Linked DNA regions of Homo sapiens. The protein of the gene in region 3 purifies or fractionates together with the protein of the main gene of each other region. This does not show direct contact. Each region holds a gene or a part of one and is shown on either strand. Other genes may lie near its edges.

Region 1 (3,238 bases), on a different chromosome or scaffold from region 3:
ACACATTATTAAAAGTGGTTTCTGGTTTTCGATACCATCCAAACAACATGAACAATTTTTAAACTGACTAACCTAAATCGTGGCGGTCAAACCAAAAAGGCTCTGGTAGATAAAGGACTCCATAGTTTATTTTTATGGCAAAAGTCTTATTCCACACAGTTTTAAGTGTGACATTAGAAATCAAAGTTTGAGGTTATAGCACAAACGAAGTGTGGACTTTTATATTTAGGGAAAAAAACCAACAAAACAGTTCTGCTCATTTACAAATGAGTCAATTAGACAAACAAAGCAGCAACTTCTGAAGCAGGACTGTCTATACAGCAAGGACCCTTAAGAAGCAATAAAGGTACATACAATGAATCTGTATACAGAAATTTTATTCAATTTTAAAAGAAAATGAGGACTTTAGACAAAGCTTTACCCTATAACAAAGCAAATCTGTCCAGCTTTAAACCAAATTCTGAGAGTAGCCAACTTCTATTTTCAGCAGCTGGCAAGAGCACCCTCAATGAGTTCTACTGACATTTCTATTTTCTTCATCCCATATGGTATAAAACAAAACCAATCTAGACTCCTTGATAAGCTTTATGTGGTCATTTGAGTTTTACAAATGGTTTCTCTAATGGTATGCCAAAATCATTTATGTGTTCTCTCCAGATAGCTTTACTGTAACATACAGCAATGTTTATCCTGGTGAGTGAGTCTTCTGTAAACAGTCAACCAATGCTCTATGTTATGGAAACCAAGCTATATGCAATTGAAACAATCCACAGGTTCTAACCTGGAAATACTAGGAAAACAATCTGGATGCATTAATCACAGCAATATGAAGATCTACCCTATAAAAAATGATGTGAATGGCTACCCTAATACAAGTTTTACTTTTCTTGAACCTATAGGCCTGTCATTTAAGTCAATGACAGCAGCTGTGGCTTCATCCCGAGACTCAAAGGCCACCATGGCTTCACCTGTGGGCATACCTTTTTCATTGTATTTTAAACACACTGAGCCTGGGATTACTTGATAGCCATAAAAGAAATCTAAAATCTCATCAATAGACACAGTAAAGGGCATGTTTTGCACTTTAATTACTGTCGGTCCTGGTTTTCCAGAACTAGATGCAAAGCCAGGGGGACCACCAATATGGATTGGGCCAGGGCCGGGGCCGGGGCCGGGGCCAGGCCCAAAAGCTGGTGGCCCACCCAAATGCCCAGGGGCACTTCCAAGACCAGGAGGGCCACTTCCAAACCCCGGGGGACCGCCTAAGCTACCAGGGCCATTTCCAAAATTCTGAGGGCCCCCTCCAAATCCCGATGGCCCACTTAAATTGTTTGGTCCACCTCCAAAACCCGGAACATCCAGTCCTAGACCAGGCAAACCACTGTTTCCAACTGAAGGCATACCAGGCCTAGCATCACCAAAGGCCCCGCCTCCTAATCCTGGAGGAGGGATTGGTGGCCCAAAGGCATTTGATCCACCAAAATTACCAGGAAAGTTAAATGGAGGCCCATTATTGGCTTCCTTTGATCCTACAGTCAGGAAGGCATGCTCTTCACCTCCTGCACTAGGTATTCCTGCACTGGGCATTCCCGCACCAGGCAGTCCTGCACTGGTTATTGCTGAACCAGGCAGTCCTGTGCTGGGCAGGCCTGCACCGGGAAGTCCTGCACTGGGCAGTCCCACACCGGGCAGTCCCGCATTGGGCATTCCTGGAACTGCAGGATTACCTGGCACAGGCATCTTTAATCCCTTTTTTCCTTGGGCAGGGGGATTTTTCTCAATCTCTCTCATATCTTCTAGGGTAACTACATGAACAAAAGCTTCTCTCCCATTAAGTTTTTTACGGTGTAAGCGTTCAGACTTACGTGCATCATCTTCATTTTTAAACTGAACCAATGCCTGTCCTAGACCTTGCCCATTGTTATCAACAAGAACATGTACAGCATTTTCATCCACTGGGATTCCTTCTAGGAACTGAAGAACATCCATCTTTGTAATGCTGAATGGAATATTTGTTATGTGGGCACAGACTTTGGCAGAGTTGACATCCCCCTCTGGATTTAGTATCATTTCCCTCTGGTCATAGCTGAAGTTCTGCAGTCTTTTTCGAATCATATCTATCTTTTCTAGCATACCTTTCTTAGTAATTGGATGAACTTGAATAAAGCGATTGCCCATGTACTGTTTATGACGACACAGAGCAGCCTTATAGTCAGCCTCATTTCTGAACTCTACAAAGCCTTCGCCAGTTGCTTTCCCATTGGGTCCATAAGCTATATAAATACTATCTTCCACAATATCCAGCTTTTTAAAAAAATCAATGACATGTTTGTTTTCTGCTTCAAATGGTAGCCCTTTCAAGTAAACACAAAAACCAGCCTCATGTGGTGATCTTGACCTTGATCTTTTCTGCCCACTGGGCGATTTTGACCTGGGAAGTGTCTGAGGAGGGGGATGAGTTTGTCCAGAAGGTCCCATATTTTGCTTAAAAGTGATATGGCCTCCAGCAGCTACCCACTGTCTTTCTGTGGCAGGGCTAACTTCCACATAGCGTTGAATCATCAGCATTCTGTTTCGTTTCAAAGCTTCAAATGTATCTTGAGGGGAGAGAAACTTAACCAATCCATTCCCATTATTTCGACCTACATGATCTTTCAACAAATGCACTGCATCAACACGGAGCCCATGAAAAAAATCTCTGACATCATTTTCCATTGCAGAAAAGGGCATTCCATGCACACTGACATACAGATCATCAGGGTTGATGGGGAGTGGCTTCACACTGCTCTGAGAGTTCATCTGGATAGGGTTAACAGGATTCAACGGACCAAGAAACATAGGATTCAGATTATTGTTCAAATTCATAGGTGCTCCAGAGCCATTCATTCCAGCAGGTAGAGGTGCCACAGGTGGCGGATTCAAGGGCGGCATGCCCGACATGGGTGGCAGTGGGGTCATGGGTGGCACAGAAGGAACTGGGGGAATCGGGGGCACAGGAGGCACAGGAGGCAATGTAGGTACTGGAGGAGGAACTGGAATTGGGGGAATGGATGGCATTGGTGGCAGAGATGGCATCGCTGGAATTGGAGGAATTGGTGGCGGCGGGACTGTGTTCATTGGAGAGGCTGTGCTTGGAACAGTTGAGCTAAACGTTGGGCTCCCAAAGGAAGCCCCCATATTTGGAGGAGCTGTTCCTACGCTGGCTGTGGAAAATGTCTGTATGTTTTTGTTGCTTTCA
Region 2 (4,174 bases), on a different chromosome or scaffold from region 3:
TGTAGGGACAGGGTCTTCCAACCTTTCCCGAGCTGGTCTCAAGCTCCTGGGCTGAAGTGATCCTCCTGCCTCAGCCTCTCAAAGTGCTGGTATTATAGGCATAAGCCACCACGCCCTGCCCATTTTTCTAAGTTGGATTATTTTACACTCCAGTCTGCTGTGAATGAGAGTTCCAGTTGTTGCGTATCGCAATCAATTTGTGATTGCCTACAAATGATGTGCCGTGATGAAATTGTCCCTGGTGTCCGAGAGGATCGCAAAGAATTTCCCTTCCTTTCTCTCCTTTCTGCTCCCCTTGTACTGTCTACTCCTTAAACTGGTACTTGATCCAGGAACATAATGGGGATGGACAGTGCAGATGGCACACATGGCCTCAGTCTATTGGAGCATCTCAAAGGAATTAGTCTGCAAATTCTAGTGCATCTAGGTGGAGCACAGGAAGGAAGAGAGGTGCAGACTCACGTATGGCCCTGGGGCACCTGCCATCCTCTCGCACCCGTACAGCCCTTACCTGCCAGCACTTACCCTACCCAGCTTGAGTTCTGGGCCTTCTCACCAGCACATCGCTGGGACCTGGTCGACTTCAGGTAAGTTTATTTCATGGCTCCCTCCCCCACGACCTGCACATGCCATATGTTCCTTCCCAGCCCCATGTCACTTGAAATGTTCTATCATGTCCAAGACTTCTCTCCTCATCCTAAAGTGCAGAAAATAAGGATGGAGAAGAGAAGGAGAAGAGAATCAAGAGAGATTCATTGAGAGGGAGGATCAGAAGCTCCTGGGCACCCCATACTGTAGAATAAAAATATTCATTATGGTGTTTTTCTTGCAAAATATTCCCCTCTACATAATTATGTTTTTACATGAATAATATAAATTTAAACAGGAGAAATACTTTTTGAAGAGTCTGAGAATCTTCATAAAGTTCAGGCGGCCACGAATTAGCTGTGTGACCTGGGGCATGCCCCTTAGACTCTGAGCCTCAGCTTCTCTGTATGTAAAATGGGTTGAAGCCGCCCTTCCCCACAAGCACCCTGTGCACAGGCAATGCCCAGCCCCATTATTTTCTGGACTCCGTGGCCAAGCATGCTTAGGACACACAGCCACATACTTCTGGGCAGTGTCATCTGGCAACTTGCTGTCATGTCAGTGTGGTCAAGCATTGTAGACCTCTATGAACCAAATATGCTTCAGGCTTGGGTTGAGCACAGGAGAGGGAGGAGGGAAAGGTCACTGGGGCTGGGAGTGCCTACTTCCCTCTGTGAGTGTCACCCCAGTCCACCCAGTACCATACCTTTCTCTCTCTGGACCCACTTCCTTTTGCTGCCGGCTCCTCCCCATTGAATAACAGCCAAGTTGCTTTGGTTTCTATTTCTTTGTTAAGTCGTTCCCTCTACAAAGGACTTCCTAGTGGGTGTGAAAGGCAGCGGTGGCCACAGAGGCGGCGGAGAGATGGCCTTCAGCGGTTCCCAGGCTCCCTACCTGAGTCCAGTGAGTTCCAGGGCTATGGGCACAGGGCTGCCTCAGCCAGAGGGACACAGCTCTGGGGCTCTGAGGAAGCAACTCCTGGGTGGCAGGGGATGGGGGTGGGGGCATCCCAAAGAGAACACAAGCAGGGCAGAAATATCAGAGGAGGTCATCCTGGCACACCTGTGCCGTGCTGAGCTCACTCATGCCTGGAGGGATGCTCCTTCCCACGAGTCATGGCTTTGACAGTGTTGACTGAGCTGTCCTGTCCTGTCCTGTCCTGTGTGCTCAGGGGAAGACATGTAGAGCGGGGTGGTTCATGTAAAGAGGAAGCAAGCACGCTTCTGGGACAGTAAGGACGCTACCCGGCATGGTAGTTAAGGGTGCTTACTGTGAAGGTGGCCTCCCTGGGTCCAGCTATTTACTGGCTGGTGGTCTCTGGGCCTCAGTTTCCATATCTGTGAAGTGGGAATAATACTTGAGCCCCCCACTCCCAGGGTTGGGATATGGATTAAGGAAGTAGTGTATCTAGTGTGTTTGAACAGTGCCTGACACACTGTAGGTGCTTTGGGAGTGTTTCATGTTATTGGGTGTCTGAGGGCAGCAGGGAAGACCTCCCGAGGAGGTGTCTGTGCTCTGAAGGTTGGGCATGGGCATGTTCAGGGCATCTGTGGAGGGGCAGTCTCAGAGGTGAGAGGGGGGTGAGGACTGTCCCTGCAGCGTGGGGTCAGAGGGCGGCAGGTGCCTTGCTGAAACCCTGTGAGGTTTATGAGTCCCCTTCATACACGGAAAATCTGAGGCTCAGGGAGGCAGAGGCCAGTTGCCAAATGCCTCCAGATGGGAGTGGCAGCCCCAGGAGCCCAGGAGACTTCAGGGGTCACTGTGTCCTGGGCCGGCTCCTGTCATAGGATCTCACCCCGCCTTGGCAAAGAGCTTCCCGAGGGGCTGGAGAGGGTGGGCTGATGGGTCCTTCCTGGGTGGGGAGGCAGGGTGGGGAGGGTGGGCAGAGGCAGGGTACTGAGGGAGGGAAGCTGCCATGGCCCACCTCAGCAGAGGCCAGGGTCGGGCTTGAGTGCCCCCTGGTGACACTGAGTCCAGAATGAGGCTGCCTACGTTCTGGTCTGCAGAGCTCGGCTCTGCTTTCTAAACTCCAGAGAGAAAGAATGGGGAAAGGAGGCCTGTTTCCTCCTGGCTGTCACCAATGACACCTCAGCCACCCTGTGGAGGCCCCTGAGGTAGGACCTGCACAGAGGGGGCTGGGGGAAGCTGGAACAGGCCGCTGGTGGGGGCCTTAGGGTCAGCAGGTGCTGCCTTGGGCATGTCACCCTGTCTCTGGTTTTCTGTCAAAGAGGGGATCCCAGAGCTTCTTCCAGGTTCTGACATATTATTATTCTGGTGACTGGTTTTTACTTTCTAATCCTTGGATTCAGAAGGAAAATTATCCTACGGACATCAGAGAGTTAAAACAGGGCCTTGGAGTCCAGACAAGAAAGATGATCAGTGCAGCCCCTATGGGTGTCCAGAGTACCCCTCTACCCCACGGGGGCTCCCCTGGGTTGGGACAATTAAGCCTCACTTGGTGACCCATCTGGCAGTCGGAGCCACGCTTCCTCCACATGCCGACAGTGGGGGAAGGTCACGCGGTTCGCTGTCCTGCTGAGGAGGGCTGAGTGCCATGAGGGCCTGGCTTGGAAACCTCACTCCCACTTCTTGTCTGGCCTCATCTAGCCCAGCCTCTTTGGAGGGCCTGGGGGAAGCTGGAACCACGTGCTGTGTGGTCCAGGAAGCACTGGGAGAGCCAGGAATAAGGATGTTCTCAGCTTACTCATGAGAGGAAGCCTGTGTGGTGGTTAGAAGCGTGGGTGCTGGGGTTCAAATCCCAGCTCTGTTGCTGACCAGTTGTGTAACTTTGAGCAAGTGACTGAACTTTTCTGTGCCTCAGTTTCCTCATCTGTAAAAGTGGCCGGGGTTGCTGTGAGGATAAATGTTCCTAGTCATGCCCAGAGCCCTCATGGACACACATGGATCCAAATGCCACAGCAGCCTTAGCTGGTCAACCTCAAAACAACACATTTGTTCTTACAGTGTTGGAGGTCAGAAGTCTAAAATCAAAGTGTCATGGAAGGTGGCCAGCAGGACCATGGAGCCTCTGAGGCAGCGGGGCACCTTGGCTAAGAGCCACGTACTGGCCTCCTGCTGGCACGCAGTCTTGGCCAGCCAGGCTGAGCTCCCCACTTCGGGGTCGGGCCTGGGTGTCCTCTGGTGATGCTGAGTCCAAAACAAGGCTGCCCACATTTTGGTTCACAGGGCTCAGCTCTGCTTTCTAGACTTCCAGATAAGAAGAGGAGGAAAAGTCCCCGGTCTCTGGGCACTATCAGGAACAGAGAGCAAGTCATGACTCAGCAGAGGGATCGATTTGTTCAATGCAAAGAGCTGCACTGTCATGTCTGACATGAGCCAGGGGCTCAGCACACGGAATCGCACCCAGTCCTCTCAGAACGCTGCCAGCCAGGGGCTCAGCACACAGCGTTGCACCCAGTCCTCTCCAGAACACTGTCGGGTGGTGTTACTGTCCTGCCATTCAGAGGAGGGAACTGGGGCACAGGCAGGTCAAGTGACTTGGCCAGTGTCAGAATTGCTAGTGTACAGAGCTGGGAGGCAAGCCCAGTCCCGTGGGACCATAAATCCAGTGTGAAAATCCATCCTC
Region 3 (3,500 bases):
TTATTAAATTCCTTTGATCATTATTGAATTATGTTGTTAGTTTGCTTATTGTTGAGTTGTTACTGTGTTAAATATTCTGAATATGAATCCTTTATCAGATATATGATTTGCAAATATTAACTCCCATTCCACTAGTTGTCTTTTCACATTCTTGTTAGTGTCCTTCGATGCCCAAAAATTGTTAATTTTGATGATGTCTAATTTATCTATTTTTTCCATTTGTTGCTTGTACTTTGGAGTCTTTTTTTTTTTTTTAAGTGAAGATTGTTTTGATATCATCAGCATCTGCTGCAAACTTAAACCACTTTTGGGACTTTCTTTTCTCTTTTGTCTCTACCAAACTTTTAGCATCATTCCCTGATTCTAAATACATTTTCCACCTTCTTTTTACATGTCTTTTACAAATTTGAGCTTTTTTTTTAAGTTTTAAAACTTTTATAAGTTCAGTGTTGTCACTGTATGTTTACATATTCATTGATACAATTTACATCGAGATTTTTACTTATCCATTTTTGCAGATATGTACACAAAGATACATATTCAATAACTGAGAAACAAGTGAAACTTCTGATCTATACTTTCAGGTTTGTTCGATCATGACACTTCTGATAAGGATCATGGACATACCAGTTTCACCTCTTCCAGAAGGACGTCGTCATTTTATCTTAAGAGTTTACTCTGGGTTTTATTGCCGAATACAAATTCCCTCAATCGCTTTTTTCTTGCAGGTGCCTTTTTCCATAATTTTTTCTTATAACCAGCCCTTCTCATCCAAAGGCCACAATGAAGTCGAAGAAACCTATAGATGACAGCTTTCACAATCCTTCTCTTGCCTTTTCCTGTACTGACGTATGTTAGAGATCTGGCTGGCAGCTTCAAGACACTTGGAAGCAAGAGGGCCACTCTATTAAGGATCGCTGAAGTATGCCCACATGTCAGGTTTCTCTCAGATGTGGTAAGTCTGGGAGTGGAGGAAACAACTGGTGTCTGAATATGACTAAAACGTCCAGTGGACAATGCAGAAATAAGAGAGGCATTTTTGACACAGTTTTGGTAGGCTGAAGATGCCAAAATATTCAGAGGCCATAAGATTCCTGAAGCTGCTCTCACTGCACCGGCAAAGGCAGAGGCAGCTATCTCGTTATCCTCCAAATTTGAGCTCTTATTAAAGAGTTTTCTGCGTGCTCTGCTATATTTTTTCAAAAGGTCCCTCCACATTCTCTCCTTAATTAAGATCATTTGTGACTATAAAGTCCAAATAGCATTTTTTATGGCATTCAATCTCCCTAAGCTTTCTTTACTTCCAAAGTTTCATTCTTTGGAATCATATTTATGTTTTTTTTTTTTTGTTTGTTTGTTTTTTGAGACGGAGTCTCGCTCTGTCCAGGCTGGAGTGCAGTGGCGCGATCTCGGCTCACTGCAAGCTCCGCCTCCTGGGTTCACGCCATTCTCCTGTCTCAGCCTCCCGAGTAGCTGGGACTACAGGCACTCGCCACCACGCCTGGCTCATTTTTTGTATTTTAAGTAGAGACGGGCTTTCACCGTGTTAGCCAGGATGGTCTCAATCTCCTGACCTCGTGATCCACCCGCCTCTGCCTCCCAAAGTGCTGGGATCACAGGCGTGAGCCACCGTGCCCGGCCTCTTTGGAATCATATTTATCTTTTTTAAAAGTTTTAAGATTTGTCTCTTAAACTCTAGAGAACTTATTTAAGTGCTGCCAGTCTGATCTTTCTTGACTATTTAGAACTCTGAGACCAAATGTTAACTTCTCCCAATGATTCTCAAGACTACTGAGACCAATGCTTTAATGTTATTCAAAAGGCTTGAATAGCACTTTTCCCATTTACTTCTTTTACCCTTTACAAAATAAAACTGTTAATAAGGAAAAACTAAATGGTAGATCTTAGTCAAATTAGGCTTCTAGCAGTTATATGGCACTTGGCTATTACCACTATTTCTTGCCAGTATCTCAATTTGTGAATTATCAAGAATATAGCATTTCCTTCCAATGTCACCATTTATAACCAATGTAACCATCACCTTTGCAGATACACTGTGATATTATTTCTATGGATCATCCTTTAATCTTTACCCAGGTGATCTCGTAAACTTCCAGGTCAATTTTTATGTTATTCTAGGCAGATGGCAGTTATTAGATATAAAATTGATGAATATATTCAAACTATGTTAGAACTATGGAATTAGAATCAGAATGAACTTCTGGGATGATTAATACAATACCTTCATTGTATACATTAAACCATCAAGTGACATGGCCAAGTCATAGGAAGACACACTGAAGGATTTTTTCCTCTTTCATGGATTTTTAAAGAGGTATAAACAGTAAATAAGAGGTATAAACAGTAAACAAGCAATCAAAGTAAATAAGCATTTAAGTAAATAAGCATTTCCATAATTTAGAATGGAAGAAAATACATTCTTGGTAGAAAGAAAAAACTGTACTTGTTGAGATGAAATTCCATTTTATCACCTTCAACTATAACAGACAATATTTTAAAAATATTATTAATAAAGAAATATAAATGTAATATATCAAAATTTACTCATAATTTATTAAACAAATATCAAATGGACTTAGACTCTGAAGAGACTTAAAAAAGTGATGAATGTGCTTTTTTATCCTGATTGTGGTCATAGTAACAGGACAGGTATCCATCTGTAAAAACTCACAGAAATTACAGTAAAAAGGATGACTCTTACTATAAGTAAATCAAACGTCAAACACCTTAAAAAAATAAATGTTGGGCCGGGCACAGTGGCTCATACCTGTAATCCTAGCACTTTGGGAGGCTGAGGCGATCAGATCACCTGAGGTCAGGAGTTCGTGACCAGCCTGGCCAACATGGTGAAACCCTGTCTCTACTAAAAACACAAAATTTAGCTGGGCATGGTGGCATGCGCCTATAACCCCAGCTACTTAGGAGGCTGAGGCAGGAGAACTGCTTGAACCCGGGAAGGAGAGGTTGTAGTGAGCCAAGATCATGCCATTATACTCCAGCCTGGATGAAAAGAGGGAAACTCCACCTCAAAAAAATAAAAATATAAAAATAAATAAATAAATGCTTCACTAAGAAAGAAGTTAGTATATACTGAAGGAAATATTGAAAATACTGAGAGCAGTTGACATTGAGGCAATTTTGTTGCACAATTCTCAAGGACATTTACACAAAAATTTAGGATTTAATTTATATATTTCTAAACATATATACACACATCAGAAATAAACAAACAAAAAACCCCCAGGTTCTTTTGAAAAAGGAAAGGTAACTCACTGTCTCATTTCCAAAAAGTATATCAACATAAGGCATAACTTTCATCAATGATTCCTTGTAGAACTGGCTAATAAACGGTGCAGATAGATTCAAAGTGAAAATCCTGTTGTTTTCAGAAGCATGGTGAGCCACCTTTAATACTGACTCTGGGGAAACTGTAAGAAAAAAGCCCTGGATGAAGAAAAAAGGAGGGAAAATTAGAAATA
Region 4 (3,500 bases), on a different chromosome or scaffold from region 3:
GGGGCAAACTGCTCTCTTACATCTCTCTTGCTCTTTTTTTTTTTTTTTTTTTTTTTTGAGATGGAGCCTCGCTCTGTCACCCAGGCTGGTAGCGCAGTCTTGGCTCACTGCAACCTCTGCCTCCTGGATTCAAGTGATTCTCCTGCCTCAGCCTCCCGAGTAGCTGGGATCACAGGCGTGGACCACCATGCCTGGCTAATTTTTGTATTTTTAGTAGAGATGGGGTTTCACCATGTTGGACAGGCTGGTCTTGAACCCCTGACCTCAGGTGATCTGCCCACCTTGGCCTCCCAAAGTTCTGGGATTATAGGTGTGAGCCACAGTGCCCAGCTCCATCTCTCTTACAAGGCCACTAATCCTATAAATGAGGGCTTGCCCTCATGACTTAATCACATCCTAAAGGTCCCACCCCTTAATACTATCACATTTGTGTTAAGTTTCAACATTCGTATATTTAAACTTATGACACGTGTCATATAATGTGTCATATTACATATTATGTGTCATAATATGGACACATTCAGACCATAGCAAATAGTACTGTGCATATCATGCAGTGGATAGGCTAAGTTTTAGAGTCAACTTTGTAGAAAATAACGTATTGATGACTAGTACTTTAATATGTTCTGGAGTATCGGGGGAACCCACCCCCAATATTTCAACATAGGTTCCATTTTCCATAAGTGTCGGCCAGCTGAGAAATAAAGAGAGACAGTATAAAGAGAGGAATTTTACAGCTGGGCCGCCAGGGGTGACATCACATATCGGTAGGACCGTGATGCCCGCCTGAGTCTCAGACCAGCAAGTTTTTATTAAGGGTTTCAAAAGGGGAGGGGGTGTAAGAACAGGGAGTAGGTACAAATATCACAGGCTTCAAAGGGCAAAAAGCAGAACTACTAATAAGGGTCTAACAAAGATCACATGCTTCTGAGGGAACAGGACAAAGGGCAAAAGCAGAACCACTGATAAGGGTCCAACAAAGATCACAGGGCAAAGGGCAAAAGCAGAACCACTGATAAAGATCTATGTTCAGTGCTGCACATATTGTCTTGATAAACATCTTAAATAACAGAAAACAGGGTTCGAGAGCAGAGAACTGGTCTGACCACAAATTTACCAGGGTGGAGTTTTTCCCCACCTTAGTAAGCCTGAGGGTACTGCAGAAGACCAGGGCGTATCTCAGTCCTTATCTCAACCGCATAAGACAGACATTCCCAGAGCAGCTGTTTATAGACCTCCCCCCAGAAATGCATTCCTTCCCCAGAGTATTAATATTAATATTCCTTCCTAGGAAAAGAATTTAGTGATACCTTCTCTACTTGCACGCCCATTTATAGGCTCTCTGCAAGAAGAAAAATATGGGTGTTTTTGCCTGACCCTGCAGGCAGTCAAACCTTATGGTTGTCTTCCCTTGTTCCCTAAAAATCGCTGTTATTTTATTTTTTAAGGTGTACTGATTTCATATTGTTCAAACACACATGTTTTACAATCAATTTGTACAGTTAACACAATTATCACAGTGGTCCTGAGGTGACATACATCCTCAGCTTACGAAGATAACAGGATTAAGAGATTAAAGACAGGCATAATAAATTATAAAAGTATTATTTGAGAACTGATAGATGTCCGTGAAATCTTCAAAACTTATGTTCCTCTGCCATGGCTCCAGCCGGTCCCTCCATTCGGGGTCCCTGACTTCCTGCAACACTGGAGTTTGTTGTTCAGTAAGTAGTGATGATATAATGTGCAGTTTATTGCAAAACATAAAGTGTGCTAGATTCACTGCCAGTAGTTTTAAATAAGAGTTCAGATGAATTCTGCCTGGAGCTTCATCAGGGAAGTGCTTCGTCAGGAAGGAACAGTAAAACTGAACCTTAATAGAGATAGGATTGTGATAAATGAAAATGTTGAATGGGAATTTTAGGCATAGAAAGCTGTCATGAGCAAGGTTGTGGGGATGTGAAATATCAAATATTTTTAAGATAGCCGATCATCCTATTTGGTTTAGAATGTAGAGTTCTTTAAAAAGTAGGAGATGGGAACAGATAGAAGTAGAAAAGTCAGCTGGGGCCAGATGATAGAAGGTTTCTCATTCCAGTTTAATTAACTTGAGTTTTATTTGCAAGCTGTGAGAGCATACAATGTTTTGGCTCATGGAAACAAACTGACCAAAGAGATGGCATTGAGGATCAATGAGACTCATGAGTGGGATGGTGGCAGAGAAACAGGGCACAGTGAGGGACCTGTGGAGTGGACAGAAAGGCCTGAGGTGGTGAGACTACCATCTCAAAATGGGAAAAAGAATCCCCTGGGATGGACTGTTGCAGAGAAGGGAGGCAGAAATCAAACAGAACTCCATTGTATGTATAGCTGGTGTTTTGGAGAATGGAAAATCCATTAAATGGCTAGAGGAGATGAAGAGAGTTAGTTGAGGGTTGAAAAAATAACAAATGATAAATTTGGAGTATAAAATCATATTGGAGATCCAGAAAGAGAATGTTTCTACATCTCCTTGTTAATCTGAGCTCTTGTTTTTGGTGGGTTAACTCTTTTAGCTGGATGCTGACAAATATGAGAATGATCCAGAATTAGAAAAGATCCGAAGAGAGAGGAACTACTCCTGGATGGACATCATAACCATATGCAAAGATAAACTACCAAATTATGAAGAAAAGGTAAGGGAGCCCTGGATTACCTGGAAAAGAAGTATCATTATATTCACTACTAATAGACGCAATATTTTCTTTCTTTTTTCTTTTAATGTCTGTATGAGGCCATTCTTGCTTTGCTATAAATAAATACCTGAAACTGTGTAATTTATAAGAAAAGAGATTTAATTGGCCCACAGTTCTGCAGGCTCTACAGGAAGCATGTGCTTCCTGTCACCACCATCTGCTTCTGGGGAGGCCTCAGGAAGCTTACATGGCAGAAGGCAAAGAGGGAGCAGGCTTCTCACATAACAGGAGTGGGAATGAAAGAGAGAGCAAGGTGCCACACTGTTTTAAATGACCAGATCTCACAAGAAGTTACTCACTGTAGTGAGGATAGCACCAAGAAGATAGTGCTAAGCTATTCATGAGAAATCCACCCTCATGATCCAGTCACCTCCCACCAGGTCCCACTTTCAATACTGGGGATTACATTTCAATATGAAATTTGGGTGGAGACACAAATCTAAACTGTATTATTCTGCCCCGGCCCCTCCCAAATCTCATGCCCTTCTTGAATTTCAAAATACAATAATCTCTTCCCAATAGTCCCCCAAAGTCTTAACTTCCTCTAGCATTAACTTAAAAGTCCCAAGTTCAAGTCCAAAGTCTCATCTGATACTCATCTCCTTTTACCTATGAGCCTGCAAAATCAAAACAAGTTAGTTACTCCCAAGATACAAAGCGGGTAAAGGCATTAGGTAAATATTCTCATTCCAAAAGGGGGAAATTGGTCAAAAGAAAGGAGCTACAGGACCCATGAAAGTTCAAAACTCAGCAGGGCAGCCACTA

The links.
Region 1: the proteins of ADK (region 3) and RBM12 fractionate together in Homo sapiens (co-fractionation; one large-scale study listed by BioGRID). This does not show direct contact.
Region 2: the proteins of ADK (region 3) and LGALS9 purify together in Homo sapiens (co-immunoprecipitation; one large-scale study listed by IntAct). This does not show direct contact.
Region 4: the proteins of ADK (region 3) and ADI1 fractionate together in Homo sapiens (co-fractionation; one large-scale study listed by BioGRID). This does not show direct contact.

The regions. Positions count from the first base shown.
Region 1 is NC_000020.11:35,651,663-35,654,900, forward strand, and holds part of RBM12 (RNA-binding protein 12), read right to left. Parts: coding exon 862-3,238; 3' UTR 1-861. Other genes in the region: CPNE1 (copine-1), read right to left, coding at 1,866-1,880.
Region 2 is NC_000017.11:27,629,814-27,633,987, forward strand, and holds the start of LGALS9 (galectin-9), read left to right. Parts: upstream 1-1,374; 5' UTR 1,375-1,452; coding exon 1,453-1,491; intron 1,492-4,174. UniProt on the Homo sapiens protein: Binds galactosides. Has high affinity for the Forssman pentasaccharide. Ligand for HAVCR2/TIM3. Binding to HAVCR2 induces T-helper type 1 lymphocyte (Th1) death.
Region 3 is NC_000010.11:74,525,221-74,528,720, reverse strand, and holds part of ADK (adenosine kinase), read right to left. Parts: intron 3,466-3,500; coding exon 3,295-3,465; intron 962-3,294; coding exon of another isoform or gene 947-961; exon of another isoform or gene 1-946. UniProt on the Homo sapiens protein: Catalyzes the phosphorylation of the purine nucleoside adenosine at the 5' position in an ATP-dependent manner. Serves as a potential regulator of concentrations of extracellular adenosine and intracellular adenine nucleotides.
Region 4 is NC_000002.12:3,513,032-3,516,531, reverse strand, and holds part of ADI1 (acireductone dioxygenase), read left to right. Parts: exon of another isoform or gene 1-1,622; coding exon of another isoform or gene 1,623-1,724; intron 1,725-2,555; coding exon 2,556-2,675; intron 2,676-3,500. UniProt on the Homo sapiens protein: Catalyzes 2 different reactions between oxygen and the acireductone 1,2-dihydroxy-3-keto-5-methylthiopentene (DHK-MTPene) depending upon the metal bound in the active site.